2 separate regions of the Homo sapiens genome follow, and region 2 is linked to region 1. The links come from fine-mapping of genetic effects on gene expression. Tissue or cell type: whole blood. Region 1 holds a variant in brackets; the other region holds the start of a gene. All regions are shown on one strand. Distances are from middle to middle.

Region 1 (5,148 bases):
ATTTTATGGTTATTCAGAAAACAGTATGAAGGATAAATTAGAATAGGCAGGAAATAGAGGGAAGGAAACCATTTAGAGACTACTACAAATAAGAAATAGAAAAGATGTATGAAGATTGGACCTAAGAAAGTGACCATGAAAACAGTGAGAAAAGGGTGATTATGAACAAAATTTACAAGGTAGACTCTTTAGGGCCTGTCTACTGAGTCAATGGGCACCAGGAGCGAGAGCGAGAAGGAAGATTCAAGGTGATGCCAAATTACTGACCTAAGAAACAGGTTGAATGGTGGCAGTGCAGTCACAGACAACTACTAATCTGCTTTCTGTCACAGTGAAATAGTTTCCATTTTCTAGCATTGTATATAAATGAAAGGCAGTAGGCACTATTTTTTTTTTTTGGTCTGGCTTCTTTCTCTCAGCACATTTATTTTAATATCCATCCCTGTTGTGTGTATAGCAACAGCTCATTCCTTTTTATTGCTGATTAGAATGGCAAGTTTCATTGACTGTCAGTCACCCTGGAGTGTCATTCCTGGCTGAGCCTCTCCCTGGCATGTGGACACTCAAGATTCATTCCCCCATCATCTGCCCACCTCCCTCCCACATCTGAATCTGCAGCTGTTTGCCTTCCCCAAATCCTCTTGTCACTGTTTGACGAGCAGTTACTGTTAGAGTGATTTCCTGGTGGGTTGCAAAATGTTACAATGTAACCAAGTATTAAATGAGCAAAATACTCTCCAAGGAATTGGAGGAGGTTGTCTTCAAAGTTGAATCTCAAAAATTCTGATTTTTCTACATTTCTGCTTAGTTCATCCTTCTAAAAAGACACCGTCATTTCTAATATGGACTCACTAAAGACATAAAGATGGCCAGTACAAGTAAGCTAAGACTACTGAATGAACACTCCAATTACCTTGTTTGAGGTTGGTCCCAAATTTATCTTTTGGTTGGCCTGCACGGATAATAAATAAATAAGCAAACAACAATAGAATAAATACCAGTGGCCTAAGTTCCACATCATTAGCATTTTGTGTTCCCAGAGCTACCATGTGGATCAGATTCAACTGGTATCCTGAGGGCTCCAGTGCTGCCTTAGAAAAATGATTAGTCTGGTGTACCAACCTCTGGGAAGTCTGCTATAGCCAGATTCCAGGAAATAGGCACTTTGACAGAGTCTTCAGCATGAATGCCCAAGGGAAGGAGAAGCTCTGAAAGAAAATTGTTTTAAATAGCTGCCTAATGATTGAGCGTCATGAAATGCTTTCACTTGGCAGGGCAAAATTGCACTACCTAGAAATGTCTGGGTGGCATTTAGAGTTGACAGACAGTAATGAGCGCTGGTTAAAAAAAAAAAAAAAGAGGTATTTTAGTGCTCTAGCAATTGCTAGACCTTCAGAAACACATCTCCCTTCTATATTTACACCTGCATTTTAAAAAGAAAAAAGAACAAAGAGAAGGAAAGAGAAAAAGGAAGGAAAGAAAAAAGGGAGAAAAGTATATCTATCATTTTATCCATTTCTAAAGACTCTTACATCAATTTAAAAGCTAACCATAATTGATCTTTTACTATGAACAATGTTTTGTGCTAAGTGCTTTACAAATATTAGCTAATTTCATCTTCACAACAACTGTTTAAGGCATACAACATTATTTCTCCCTTCTTACACATAAAGAAACTGAAGCTTGCCTGAGGTCATCATCTAATTGACAAGTCACGGTTCAAACCTAGGTGAGTCTAGCTTTAGAATTTGGGTTTCAATCACCGTATGGCATTGCTTCTCTTTCCTAACCTGGACTTAGTGATTGTGCAAACAGTGATGTCAACCATCTCAGCTTGCCTGGGTAGGGATGAAGAGAATTTCCTTCGCTCTTGCTTCTGAAGTTTAAATAATTTGAGTCTATAAAACAAACTAACAATAGGCAGATTCACAGGGAAAAAAAAGTGTACAAATTTTATTAATGTGCATATGGACACAGAAGCCACACACAAAGTATGAGACTCAATGGAAAGCCAGATGGCTGAAGGTTATATACCATACAGCAAGGAATAGAGGCTTGGGGCATGGCAAGACAAGTTATTGGAGGAAGAGGGGAGAAAAGGCATGGTGAGCAAAGGCTATCTTGTTATGCAGATAGAGCCCCATGGATAGCAGCCCTCGGAAAGAACAGACAGTATCCTGCTCTTATGTGGTAAAACTTTATCTGTCAGACCTTTTGAAGTGTCAGAACTTTAGTCCCTCTTTCCTGTGATTTAATCTTTCCTAGGTCTGGATAAGGGAGGCCTTATAAAACCCTGTTTGTGTCTGCTGTTAACTTCATTTCACTAATGTAGATTTCCTCTACAGATGCAAATCTCCCCGCCTCCCCAAAAGACAGCTTTTCAAAGCTTTTC[C/T]TGTGGTTTGCAGTTCCTGTGAATAGTCATATCAAAATATACCAAAGAAGTATATTTTGGAGTGGCATATTTTTGTTTCCTTTACCTGAGACCCACAGGACCTAAAGCGCTAAAACCTGGAAAGTCCCAGGCTAACAAGCATGAGTTAGTCATCCTCCAAGAATGCAAAAATATGAAAGAAACCTCTCTCTACTCAGTGATAAAGCTTCTCCAACTTAAGTGAAGGGACATTATAGTGTGCAAAGAGACCAGGCCCTAAAAGAACTGAGTCCTTGTCTCAATCTGCTTATAGCCAGCTCCAAGAGACCTTGACCAAGTCAGGTGACCTCTCTGGGCCTCAGCTCCTTCCTTCTTAAAATGATGAAGGTGGGTTAGATAAACAGGTCTCCACTTGGCTGTACATGAGAACCATGTGAGGAACTTTCAGTAAAGGCCGGTGCTCAGACCCCACCCCACCCCTGACCAATCAAATCCCAGAATATCTGGGGTTGGGGAACTGAATTTACTGCAGAGAACAAAGCATACATGTCCCACTTCTTAGAGCTAACAATTTAGTGGAGGAGCAAAAAGGCAAACTATGATTCATATACATATATATATATATATACACACACACACACACACACACACACACACACACATATATATGATCCTCCCTTCTATATTTATGCCTGTATTTAAAAAAAAAAAGAGAAAAGAACAAAGCAAAGAGAAGGAAAAAAGAAAAGGAAGGAAGTAAAAAAGGAAGAAAAGTGTTTCTAATCTGTTTGCCTGTTTCTAAAGACTCTTACATTAGTTTAAAAGCTAACACTAATTGATCTTTTAATATGAATATATATATATACACATGAATCATACACACACATATAATTTGTAGTAAGAGCTATTAAGGTGAAAATAATGTTATGAGAATTATGAAAAATTAATAAGGGGAACATAATTAAAGGGAGAGAGTCTGAGAAGGCTTCTGTGTGTGTCAGAAGAACAAAAAATTGCAGTTAGGCATACACATTACAGGGGAAAGAGCTTTCTAGTCAAACGGATATCTAACTTGGTTATCTGCTTCCGTATATGTCTACATACATACATACTTATACTATATGTACATGAATGAATGACTTACTTGAAGACTCATAGCCAGAACAGAGGGTGGAAAGGAGGGCGGAGAGTGGTGGGGAGAGCGGCACGCAGAGTGCCTGGGGAGGTCGGCAACAGCCAGACCATGTGGCAGACTTGAGGTTTTATCTTAAGTACAACAGCAATAGCAAGCCAGTGGAAGGTTTAGGCAGGGGAGTTACACTTTCAGATTTGTGTTTTTAAAAATTCACTTGTGCTTAAGTGTAGAGGATGGTTTGGATGGGGCATAAGGAAAAGAGAAGTTATAAAGTTATCGCAATAACATGAGTGAAGGTTTTGTTCCTTGATGATGCCAAATTTTAGCAGAATTCTGGGTACCTGCAGAGACTCACTGGAGTAAAGGAACAGGAAACAAATTTGATAGAATGCAAGCGGCATAACTCATGAAAAATCAGGAAATCGCTTTATACTGAATGTAGATGAGTGAGTGCCCTTGGCTTACTGCGTGCTATTCTCAGCTGCCCGAGTGTATTCTGTCCCTCATAAAAGCACACCGAGTTGCCCTCCCGCCATTCCTCTTCTCTCTCCCACTGTGTCTCTTCTTCCTTGTCATTGTTTATGTCTCTATTCCTAGGCTTAGGGTGGCATTCAACCTTGGAGCTCCCATTTTCTATCCTTGCAAGGGTTCCCTTTGTGCACTAAAGCATGGTTGGAGGAGCACACTAATTGTGCAGAGTTTGGCCACGCATTGATTTTTTAGCTTTTTGTCCCCTGGTGGGGTGGCTGGTCCCTTGGCCTCAGTCCATTTCCTAATGGATAGGTGTCAGCTTCACAAAACCATCACCTCGATTAGCACTAATTACCACCTTTCAGAGCCATCATCACCCAAAGGCTCTGGATTGAAAGGTCAGCAGGAAAATGAACTTCTACTCACACCTTCACGGGTGGTCCCTGGCTTCTGATCATGCAGAGGACAAGGGCTAATAGGGACAGACCTTTCCGCCTTTCTGCTCTTAGACCAAATGTTTCTTGAGAAGTCAGCCTTGGGACCCCAAGCCTCAGCTCATGAGATGACTGAACCCATGGCAAAGCACAGTCTTGTTAAACTTCCCTCCCTGTCCTGTCTCCCAGTGGCCTTGGGCTCTCCACACCCAGCCCTCACCCTCAGCCTCACACCATGCTGGTGAAGGAGGTGGCAGAAGCATGCCCACACTCCCTCTAGGTGTGTTTATGGTGCCCATATCCTCTTCCAGGCAGTGAGGGAGCTGTCACCCAAGGATAGGTAAAGAGAGCTCAGCATCAAATACAACTTGTCAGTATAGCAAGTCCATGAGCGTGTCTTTCCATTTAATCTTCACAGTACTTTGGTGGGGGACACAGTGCGAGCATCATTATCTGCCTCATTTTACAGATGAAAAGATAGAGGCCAGAGAGGTTGACAACTTGCACAAAATCCCACAGCCATTTCATGGTGGATTTGGGTCCCCAAACTAAACCATTAGGGGGTACAAATGAAGCCATGTATGCATGCCAAAGCATTTTAGAAACCAAAAAAATACTATACCAACATATAATATCTGTGTTAGTTTCTTGAGGCTGAAGTAGTAAATTACCACAAACTAGCTGGCTTAAAATAACAAATGTTTTCCCTCACAGTCCTGGAGCCTGGAAATCTGAAA
Region 2 (5,148 bases), 490 kb before region 1:
CTTTCACTGATTTCAGCTATCACCCTGAAAAAGAGGGACAAACTTAAAATCTTCTATTTAAATACGAGTATTATTTATTTATATAAATTCTAATTCAAAGTATATTTTCTACATTCAAAGATCAGAAGGAAATTCTAAAATTAAAAAAAAGATCACAGAACTCTCAAATATTTCAAAATCTTAGATTTTCCTCTTGGAAGTATGAATGTAACTTAACTGTCAAAAAAAAGTAAAACATAAAGTTCAATTGATATTTTATTGAGTTGGCTATAATTAAGGGTTTTTTTTCCTAAAACTTTAAATGGTAAGTAATAGTGTAGCATAACCAACATGCAATACAAAATATACACACTCAAATAAGATACAAGCCCTTTCCCCACAAAGTTTTATACGAACAGATTCAAATGAATTTCAACCCAATTGTTAAGAAAAAAAAATTCACTATATTTCATAAGGTTAGGGAATCAACATTTTACTATAAATGAAATCTTTACGTATGACATTTGGGATAAACCAACAGCATTCTGACTCGTAAAAATAATTTCTTTAAAAAAGATTATCCTTACAAGCCCATTATTTTCTTATACTGTGCAATTATAATCTACACCTTAAGCAAAGGGGAAAAAACCTCGGTTACAAAACGCAAATACTAAGCATGGATTACTTAGTCCCTAAATTCTATCTGCCTCCACCTTAGTCCTCTTATTTTGTGTCAAGAGACAACATTAAACAATTTCAGTACATTATTTTTACAGTGGATGCTCTTCTACTATATTCACAGCTCATTAAGAGTACTAGAATGCTGACGTTTGCTAAATTATTTATTGTATCCAAAAAGTTAGGTCTCAATAGATACAATTTCTTAAATTTGGGGTTAAAAATTTTTATCTGGAATTCATTTAAAGTAGAAGTTGCCTTCAAAGAATTATTCCAGTTAAGTTTTAATACAATCTGCACAGAAATGGGAAAACTATAGAGGTACATAACTCTTGTAAGAATAAATTACATGTACAAGTGCACACAAAACTGTATCAGTCACAAATCTCCTTTGGTCTCAGTAGTGCCATGGTACAGTGCGAAGCATATTTTTTAGTTCTTGGGGAGAGGAAGGGGACTTCCAAATACTAAATGGATCGTGATTTTAAGCAAATAATCAAATGCACAAAAAATGCCAGATCACTTTAGATAATGAATCCAAACCAAGGACTCCTACTGTCAAATTCGTCTCACAAAATGACACGCTTTCTTCTCATAATAAAGGTCAGGGAATTCTACAGGGCCACGAGGGACTATCACAAAAACATTTCCAGCAACTCAAAATACCCATCAAGACTTTGTACTTTGCATACGTTAATCAGGTTTTTAAAAAACAAACAAACAAGGATGTAGCTGTCACACTTAAAAGAATTTCCTTTAACATAAAAATTTCCAGTAGCCAAAAATGGGCGAGGCCAATAAACCGCTGGTCTAAATTACCTTACACATACTGTACTTCATATGCACCAGAAGACGCATCTGAGCCGAAGCCCACCGCACTGCGGCCCCTGGAATTCAGCGGGCGGCCCGCGCCAGGGCACCGAGCAGGAAGCACTGCACCCGCGCCGCAGTCCCCGGGCCAAGCCGGAGGGGCTGCGGGGAGCAGTCACCACTGCTTTGAAACTGAATGGCTGACACATCCGGTCCTGGCTCTTACACCACTCCGCCAAATGCAAACTTCAAAGGCCAAATTCAAACTCCAAACAGAAGTCACTCAAGTGACTTAGCAGTGCAGTTCGCATTCCCAGGAACACTCAAAGCCCCTTGGGGGCTGCAATTAGACAAACCGCACTTCCTAAAAGACTGCAAGCCTCCGCGAGTGTGCAGCCTCCCGCCGCACGGCTTTGACAGGCGTTACCGAGCCGTCCTCCTGGAGCCCTGCGGCCGGCGCTGGGGGCGCGCCGCCTGCGTCCGGGCCCAGCCCGCGGTATCTGCCTAGGGACTCGAGTCCCGGGCGGGCCGAGGGGCTCTGCCTGTCACGGCCGCTGGGACCTGCTACTTTCTCTTCGGTCCTCTCAGTCTCCCACCCGACCTCGGGCTTCTCACCCACCCCGCCCCTCTTCCGACCACCGCCCGCCTCAGGCTCGGGCCTCGCCCCCCAGTGCCTTTGCCCCGGGGACACCCGTCCGGGGGCGCCGCCGCAGGGCCGTGCCCCGCCCCCGGGCTCCTCGGAGAGCCCCGATTCCAGGAGTCCCACAAAGCCAGCCGTGGCCCCCTACACCTTTTCGCAACGGTTCCCCGCAGAGAGGCTCGCACGCCTGTCACATGTCTGCAAACAATAACAAACTCTTCCGCACGTCCCCGTCCGGTCCCCCAGGCTGGGTCCGGGGCGCCGCCCGACTCCGAAGGGGTCGGGGGGTGCTCAGGGGCGTAGGTCCCGGCGAGCGGCGCGTAGCCTCGCTGCGCTGAACCCCGGGACGCCGTGCATGGTGCCCGGGGTTCATTCATTGCCCTCTGCCCGCTCTCCAAGTCCCCGCCGCGACCCCGGCCGTGCTGCTCACCCGGCGGGGGCCGCTGCAGGAGACGGCTCGGCGGCGGGCGCCCGCTTCTCCCCGGGCTCGGCCGCTGCGGGACTCGAGGCGCCGCTGTCCGGCGCCGCCACCGACTCGGTAAGGTGGGCGCCGCCGCGGCTCGCGGCTCCGTGGGGCGGCGGCACCGCCACAGGCTGGAAGCCGGTCCCACTCCCCGCTGCGTCCGCGGGCTCCGGCGACGGGGAAGTCGAGGAGGCCGGCGGTGAGGCGGCAAGGAAGAGCGGCTGCTCAGGCAGCTGGTCCAGCTCCACACTCCGCACTTTGCGCAGCTGCCGCCGCCGCCAGTCCGCCCGCTCGCGGCCCCCGCTGCCCGCCTCCCGCAGCAGTCCCGCGGCAGCCGCGGGCGCGCTGCTCGCCTTGAGGGCTCCTCCGCCGCCGCCTGCCTCAGGGCTCGTAGCCCTGGCGCCCGGGAATCCCGACGACGAGGCGCGATTCCCCGCCGCCGCCGCCATTTTCTCTCGCGGGCTACATTCGCTCGGCCCCTGCGAGGGAGGGAGGGGGCGGGGAGAGCGCAGGGGGCGGGCACTGCGCCGCCAGCGTAAGGCCTCCTGCGCCAACTGCGTGAGCGCGGCCCGCCGGGCGCCTGGCCTGGACTGACCGACGGGCGGGCGCACTGGGTCCGGCCTGCGGCAGAGGTGTGGGTGGAGGGCGGCCCGGCGGCCGCAGGTGGGAGGGAGTGGGCTGTGCTCTCCGCCGGGCGAGAGGGCGGGCGGGCGAGGTGGACTGGGAGGCGGAGGGGGCGGGGGCGGAGGCGGAGGCGTGGGCTCCCGGGACTCTGCGCGCTGCACGCGCCGCGCCGCCAGGTAGTCCCGGCCGCACCGGCGACAGGAGGAGCCTTGGCGGCAGCGCTGCGCCGCTTCCTCTCGGCAATCTCGGCCCGGCACCGCGGAGCTCGCGGGAGGGGAGTTGCACCTTCCGAAAGAAAGAATTAGTTCCAACTTGGGTTTCTGGTGCTTGAAGGGGACGCAGGCGAGAGGGTTTACAGTCTGTCATTCCCACTGCCCTTTGCAGTGGGCGTCGGGGGACCCGGGCGTGGACCAGCCTCCCACCGACGCGCAGGTGGCGCCCGGGACCGTCGCCTGCTGCAAAGCGAAAGCAAGTCAACGTTCAGCAGACAGGCTGCCGCGGACCAGAAAAATAAAGTTTTGTTTGTGTTTTCTTTTGAAAAGAAAACATTCCTTCTCTATTGTCCCACCCCTGTCCCTGTGCTACAGATAACAAAACTTCAAAGTTTTCTGTAATACCTTACATCCTGAAGCTGCTGATTTGGGACAACTACCCCCTACCCTCACCAAGTCCCCACAGCCTCTGAGAAACCGTTGGGGCGAGGAAGGGAGGCGGGTGTCCCCGTCGATCTTTAGTTTTTCCTTGGCTGTCTTTGGGAAAGGCAGTCCCGTACAGAACCACATATAGCGCGTTTGGGGAGGGGACCAGCGCTGTGCCAGGAAGTGCTCGGTAATGTCACCCTCGGCCAGGTCCCGGCCCTCCCCGAATCCGATGCTTCTCGCCGCACGTCCTTCTTCCCTGCAGGGTCGGGCCACCGGCCGGGTTCCCTCTGTCCCCACTCCTGCAGGGCCTGGCTGCCCATCGCTGCGTTGTGAGTCCTCCTAGTCCCTGGACTCTACGTGAGAAGGTGCTTTGGGATGGAAAAAGCAACATTTACACGTTAATGATTTTTGACCTTTTGTCAACTGAGGAGAACTTCTGTGTTGCGTTTATTTCTTCCTTCCTTTCCTTTCCTCCAGCTGGTTTGTTTAGGATGGGGAATCTCCCAAAACCCAGGAGGAACGTCTATAGATTTACTTTGTGAAACATGATTAAGGAGGGGGGAGGTTGGGGTGGGGGGGTGCGGATTCTCACGGAGATAGTCTTGTCAGTCTTCACATATTTAGACAAAAGCCTGAACTATTTACAGAATAATTCCATTGACTTCTGGAGACTAGGTAAAATGAAAGCCCCTTTCCCAGATACAATGTTAACTGCGTAACCAGGTTAGATCAGAGGGGTTTTAAAAAGTCCAGATTTCATATTAGCTCAATGATTTGAAAACTGCTGTAACATCTCCCATAAGATAGTTTTAGATCGTTACACCCAACGGTACAAATTTTGAAAGTTCAGATAAATCTGTTAAAAATTAAGTCTACATTTAGGCTATAATTATATGCTATTTTAATGGCAGTCAAATGTATCATTCAAACCAAACAGTGGTTATTTCTCAGGTCTTCCTGGGTTGCCACACCCACCAAATCCTAAACTGAAACGGATAAACTTTCCTTGTTCCTATTTTGATCTAAAGACTTTTACATTTGCACGCACATATTCAGGTACCTGTAAGTGAGAAAAGTAAGTGGAAGACTTTAGCCAGAGTAGCAGAGTAAAAAGGAGATTCCAGCAAAACTGATTTTTGACTGTTTGTACAGTGGTTGAAACTGGGGATCAAAGGGAGAGGGCTACCCAGCGCAGCACTATGAACTAGCTACAATTCTCTCACTTCCTCCATCCACCACGTATTACCATGGAGAAACCTAAGTGTTGGTATTTTCCCACAGTTTTTGTTGCTTTGAGTCATTTTTTTCTTTGT

Evidence for each region. PIP is the estimated chance that this variant, and not a neighbour inherited with it, causes the effect.
Region 2: it holds the start of MAP3K1, and the variant in region 1 is fine-mapped to the expression of MAP3K1 in whole blood (INTERVAL, PIP 0.95).

What each region holds. Positions count from the first base shown.
Region 1 is chr5:56,326,431-56,331,578 of GRCh38, reverse strand. All of the region lies in intron 2 of LOC105378977 (a long non-coding RNA gene), which reads right to left. Among named protein-coding and RNA genes, the nearest start is that of ANKRD55, 96 kb to the right of the region's middle. The variant C/T (reference allele first, on the strand shown) is at 2,393.
Region 2 is chr5:56,813,445-56,818,592 of GRCh38, reverse strand. MAP3K1 (mitogen-activated protein kinase kinase kinase 1) reads right to left here and starts at 3,044. Exons shown (of 20, transcript NM_005921.2): 1 at 2,538-3,044. The coding sequence starts at 3,019. RefSeq lists silencers at 1,947-2,186, 2,367-2,486, 2,557-3,326 and enhancers at 1,412-2,235, 3,687-3,816.